Regions from separate parts of the Homo sapiens genome. Here region 1 is linked to region 2. The links come from fine-mapping of genetic effects on gene expression. A gene starts in region 2. The other region holds a variant in brackets. All regions are shown on one strand. Distances are between the middles of the regions. Region 1 overlaps ANKFY1 (ankyrin repeat and FYVE domain containing 1). Region 2 holds the start of CYB5D2 (cytochrome b5 domain containing 2).

Evidence for each region.
Region 1: its variant is fine-mapped to the expression of CYB5D2 in whole blood (TOPMed, PIP 0.92).

Annotation. Positions count from the first base shown.
Region 1 is chr17:4,173,540-4,176,039 of GRCh38, reverse strand. ANKFY1 (ankyrin repeat and FYVE domain containing 1) reads left to right here. Exons shown (of 25, transcript NM_001330063.2): 20 at 1,984-2,131. Among named protein-coding and RNA genes, the nearest start is that of CYB5D2, 32 kb to the right of the region's middle. The variant C/G (reference allele first, on the strand shown) is at 1,355.
Region 2 is chr17:4,141,640-4,144,656 of GRCh38, reverse strand. It overlaps CYB5D2 (cytochrome b5 domain containing 2), which reads right to left and starts at 1,460. Exons shown (of 4, transcript NM_144611.4): 1 at 652-1,460. The coding sequence starts at 901. It overlaps ZZEF1 (zinc finger ZZ-type and EF-hand domain containing 1), which reads left to right and starts at 1,627. Exons shown (of 55, transcript NM_015113.4): 1 at 1,627-2,115. The coding sequence starts at 1,762. RefSeq lists enhancers at 612-1,191, 762-1,314, 1,342-1,651, 1,315-1,866 and a silencer at 1,732-1,901.

The DNA of each region.
Region 1 (2,500 bases), 32 kb before region 2:
GGTCCCAAAGTCGTAGGGAATCGGCCTCGTGTTCATCAGTCTTTATGCCTCTGTAGGGCTGGAGGAGGTTACGGTCCCTGACCAAGGACCCCGCCTTCCTGGGGCCCGGCATGACAGATGATAGGATCGCCCAGAAACACTAGAAACAGCGGGTCTTCCAGTGTCCGTGTGCTCCTTCCTCTGAATTGATGCTGCATCCTGTTTGACCCTGTTCATACTGAAACCCCTTCCCCACTCTCTCCTCCCAGTTAACCAGCTGTGGGGCCAGTTATGATCCCTAACACAGCACCAGGGACCATGAATATACATCTGTGAGACGTCCCGTATGGAGAGTCCCATATCCACTCATATGTCTTATCGATCAGTGATTAGACTGGGCGCCCAGAGTTCTGGGGAGGCTGAGACTTAGAAGTCAGGGTCCTAACCAGAGCAGCTAAGCAGCACCTAGATTTTCCCAGAGGCAGTGCCTGTACACACGGAGGAACCAGGGGTGGCCATACACCTCAGCAGCAGCAAATTGGGTTCTGACTACAGACTACATGTATTTTCTGTTTACAGCGATTGTTTTTTAAACTTTGTCAGAAAGAGGATGACGAACTTCAAATACTAAACGAATAGGTATTATGTAAAGGTCCCTCCGGCTGTGTTGATTCTGTAATTCTTTGTGTCCCTTTTTTTCTTTCTTTTTTTTTTCTTTTTCCTTTTTTGAGACATGGTCTTGCTCTGTTGCCCAGGCTGGAGTGCAGTGACCTGATCACAGCTCGCTGCAGGCTTGACCTGCCAGGCTCAATCAATCCTCCCATCTCATCCTCCCGAGTAGCTGTGATTACAGGTGCACACCATTACACCCAGCTAATTTTTAAATTTTTTGTAGAGATGAGGTTTTGCCATGTTACCTGGGTTGGTCTCGAACTTCTGGGCTGAAGCAATCCGCCCGCCTCAGTCTCCCAAAGTGCTGGGACTACAGGCCTGAGCCACTGCACCCGGCCTGTGTTCTTTCTTTTAAAAAACAGGCCGGGTGCAGTGGCTTATGCTGTAATCCCAGGACTTTGGGAGGCCAAGGTGGGAGGATCACTTGAGGCCTGGAGTTTGACACCAGTCTGGGCAACATAGCAAGACGTTGTCTCTACAGAATTTTTCTTTTTTTTAATTAGCCAGGTATAGGGTCACATGCCTGTGGTCCTGGCTACTCAGGAGGCTGAGGTGGGCCAATCATCTAAGCCCAGGCGTTCAAGGCTGCAGTGAGCTATGATGGTACCACTGCACTCCAGCCTGGGTGACACAGCAAGTTGCTGTCTCAAGAAATAATAAATAGAAAACAATAGTGAAATAGTACATACTCATTGTGGAAAAA[C/G]TCAAAGCATGTAAGGATGTGAAACAGATAGTGTCTCTCTTTGAGTCCCAGCTCTTCGGAGTATGGCATTTATGCTTTGAAACACCTTCCAAGTGCCTCTGTGCCTGCATGCTTGTGTGTACACAGAGCTCTGTCTTCCCCAGATGGAATCATACTATCTTCTAATTTGCAAGGTTTTTTAAACTTACTTGTCATCAACATCTTTCCATGTTAATCGATAAATATTTATCATCTTACTCTACTGTTTGTACCTATTACAATTTTTTACAACCAAACCCCTTTGCCTTCAGGCTTTCCTATTCCAAGCAGTAGACACCCGTAGATAGTACAGCGGCCATCACTGCAGTCCTGCACAGCTTTTATACACGAAAACCTTAGAAGTAGAGTTTCTGCATCCCAAGGAATGGCTCTTTAACATTTTGATAGGTAATTGCCAGTTTGCCCTTGGCACGGGTTTTGCTGGTTTCTGCTTCAGCAGGAGTGTGTGTGAAGCTCCTATGCTCCCAGCTCTGTCAGCAGGGCAGGCCATCAGCCTCTGTGGGTGTCAGAAGACAAGCAGGCTCGGCCCCCATAAGGGGGATCTTGATTGTGGCAGAGAGACTGACTGTTCATGTAATGAACTTCAACAGCTTCTTGCGGGAGCCAAAGTGAACGAATTAACCAAGCATCGCCAGACTGCCCTCCATCTTGCTGCCCAGCAGGACCTGCCCACCATCTGCTCAGTCCTCCTAGAGAATGGCGTGGACTTTGCTGCCGTGGATGAGAATGGAAACAATGGTAACTCCCAGTCATTCTTTAGTGGCTTGAACGATCCCTCCATTCTAGGGGTGGGGGTGCAGTGCACCCTTGGGTCTGCTCCCCACTGGGGAGGTTGGCTTTTACAGGAGCAAAGCTGTGACAGGAAGTGCTCTGGGTAGAGCATCCAACCTGCGACTGCCCAGGCCTTGGGCAGCCTCCCCATCTGAGTGGGAGCCCTGGAAGCCCACACTGCCTCCTTGGGAAACTGTTAAATCTCACCTTTGGGTAACTGCTGAAGCAGAAGGCACAGCACAGAGCAATCATGAGATTGCATTTGTGATGCATCCTTGAGGGCGGTGAAGACCAGAAAGGATGGCTCTGTGCGTGGCCAGTCGCTGCTGTGGCCGG
Region 2 (3,017 bases):
CTAACATATGCACAACTTTGGTCTACGTATCAAGGACTGTAAAGGTGACTGGACCCCTTTCCTCTGCCCTAACCTTCTAAGGAAGGCAAACAGGTGCATCTTGTACTAGAAGCAGGAATGACTCAGACCAAATGTACTATATGACGGGCCATAAAGGAATAAAGTATTGATGCATGCTCATAAACCATGGATGAACCTTGAAAACACTATGCTTAGGGGTGGGGGGAAGAAAGATTATTTGGGACCAGGGCATAATGAAGAGATGGTTGGAATTATTAAGGAAACTGTGAGGGTAGGGGCGGGGCGGGATCTCGTTTATCTGTGCCCTAAGAGCCCCCACAAAAGTCCGGCACACAGCCCGTATCCTAGGGCTTCCGACGCTGGGTAATGGGTAACAAGAGACAGAAGACATGTTTCTCCAATGTAAGTCACGCAGGGCGGTGGTGGATGACAGAGCTGGCCCACAGTCCCGCCAGAGCCAGAGAGCCTAGAAGGATAGTGCATGCAGCTCGTCCCGCCCACCGCACGGGTTTGATGGATGTGGGGTGGGGATGGGGGGGGAAATAGATGAATAATGAACCAACGAACGACGCGCAGGTGGCTACTGGCTCGCGCCAGCGGAGAGAAAGGCGTGAGCAGCCTCGCTGATACCTGCGAAGCCGCTATAGTGGGACCCAGGCTCGTAGTGCCTCCGGCCGGAGGACACATCGTAGACACGGCCGAGCAACGCCAAGTACAGGCCCGGGTCCCCTGGGCCGCCGCGGTAGCGAGACAGCTCCTCCGGTATGAAAAGGCGAAAGCCAGCGCGGGGACCCCACCAGCCCATAAGCCGTGCTGCCATTACCGCTGCTGCGGCTACAGCCAGGCCCAACAAAAGCCCACGGCCTCCGCACCTCAACATCTATATAGGCCCACCCGCTCCGCACTTCCGAGGTTGCCGCCTCTATCTACAGCTAAGATGGCCGAGACGCCGAGCGTGACGTCATCGGCGCGCGCGCTCTCGCTCTCTCTCTCGCGCGCTAGTGCTCGCGCTCCCTCCCTTAGTCTCTCTCGTTTTATCTGTATTCCTGGCACTGGCGAAAAGCTCGCTGTCTGCGACTTTTTCCAGGTACTTTTTTTTTTTTTTTCTGAGACAGAGTTTTAGCTCTTGTTGTCCAGGCTGGAGTGCACTGGCGGAATCTCGGCTCACTGCAACCTCCGCCTCCCGGGTTCAAGCGATTCTCCTGCCTCAGCCTCCCAAGTAGCTGGGATTACAGGCACGCGCCCCCACGTCCGGCTAATATTTTGTATTTAGTAGAGACAGGGTTTCACCACGTTGGTCAGGCTGGTCTCGAACTCCTGACCTCAGGTGATCCACCCGTCTCGGCCTCCCAAAGTGCTGGGATTACAGGCGTGAGCCACCGCGCCTGGCCCTTCTCGTACTTCTTGGCTTGCAGGTTGTCAGCCCCAACAAAGATGGCGGCAGCGGAGGCTACGGAATGACGTAGATACTGAGACAGACTCGTCCTCTGGGAAATCAAGGTTGCACCCTTTGAGGCGGCGCTCCCCGCCTAGCTGTCGTGAGTTGGTAGAGGCCGCCTATCTACGTGACGGCGCCTTTGCGACAGCGGTCGTCGCTTGACGGCCAGGAAGCCGGAAGCCGCAGGGGCCGCCGTCGTCTCCTCCGCGTCCCCGCCCGCCAGCTGCTGTCGGAGGTTGACAGGTCGAGGCGGGGAGGCGGCGGCGGCGGCTGCAGAGCCAGGCGCCCAAGACGGAGACCCCATGGGGAACGCTCCGAGTCACAGCAGTGAAGACGAAGCGGCAGCTGCCGGTGGCGAGGGCTGGGGCCCACACCAGGACTGGGCCGCGGTCTCGGGCACGACCCCCGGCCCGGGCGTCGCGGCTCCAGCGCTACCACCCGCCGCGGCGCTGCTGGAGCCGGCCAGGCTGCGAGAGGCTGCTGCAGCGTTGCTGCCCACACCCCCCTGCGAGTCGCTGGTGTCGAGGCATCGCGGCGCGTTGTTTCGCTGGCTGGAAGAGCGGCTGGGCCGCGGCGAAGAGTCTGTCACTCTGGAGCAGTTCCGGGAGCTGCTGGAGGCTCGCGGCGCCGGCTGCTCTAGCGAGCAGTTCGAGGAGGTCAGGGCCGGCAGGCGACTGCGGGGATGGGGCAGGGCGGTCGCCCCCAGGGGACTGAAGGAAGAGGTGGGCATTTGCTTTGGAGAGGCCAGGCGGGGACCCATATGAGGTGTTTCCAGCTTTTCACCAGGCGTTTGCTTCGTTTCTCTTTAACCTATGTTAGAGGTCTGGAAAGTCTGCATCAGGCCGTCCTTGCTCTGAAGAGCTGGACAAGCCCATATGTCTCTCTCTGTATGTTGTAATGCAGACCTTTGTGCAGTTGATTGACGCTACTCTGGAGATCTTCTATCAGATTCTCGAACAGTTTGGAGAGAAAAGAGATGTAAGGATAGGAGGAGTGGCGCTGAGAACCATTTTTTGTATTGTCCTGTCCAGGTTTTTACACAGCACCTTCCCAATTCAGTGTGGGCGCCGAATAAGTGTGGAAAGACAGTAGTAACATGCTGGAAAGGCTCACATTCTAAAACCTATCCTCCTCATGCAAAAACTAGCTTTTCTAAAATACATACTGGTTTGTAGATCCTTAAAGAACCATATATTAGACTCATTTAAACCTTCATAGGATCCGAAACTGATAGGCAAATACCAGGTTTCCTGTGAATACTTGTAATTATGCAGTTCTTCATATAATCACCAAGATCATGTCTGCTAAGTCATTAAGAGAGCAAATTGATTTGGCAACAAAATATTTTCCTTGGAAGGCATTTTGGGAGTTTATTTACTGGGCGCTTCACTTCGAGTTAAGAAGACTGATCCAGGGTTACCCAGTGAATCATTAGTAAAACAGACTATCAACTAGATCTCTTGCTTTTTTTTTTTTTCTTTCTTTCAACTTTTATTTTAAATTCAGGCGTACATGTGCAGGATTTGGATTTGCAGATGTATTACATAGGTAAACGTGT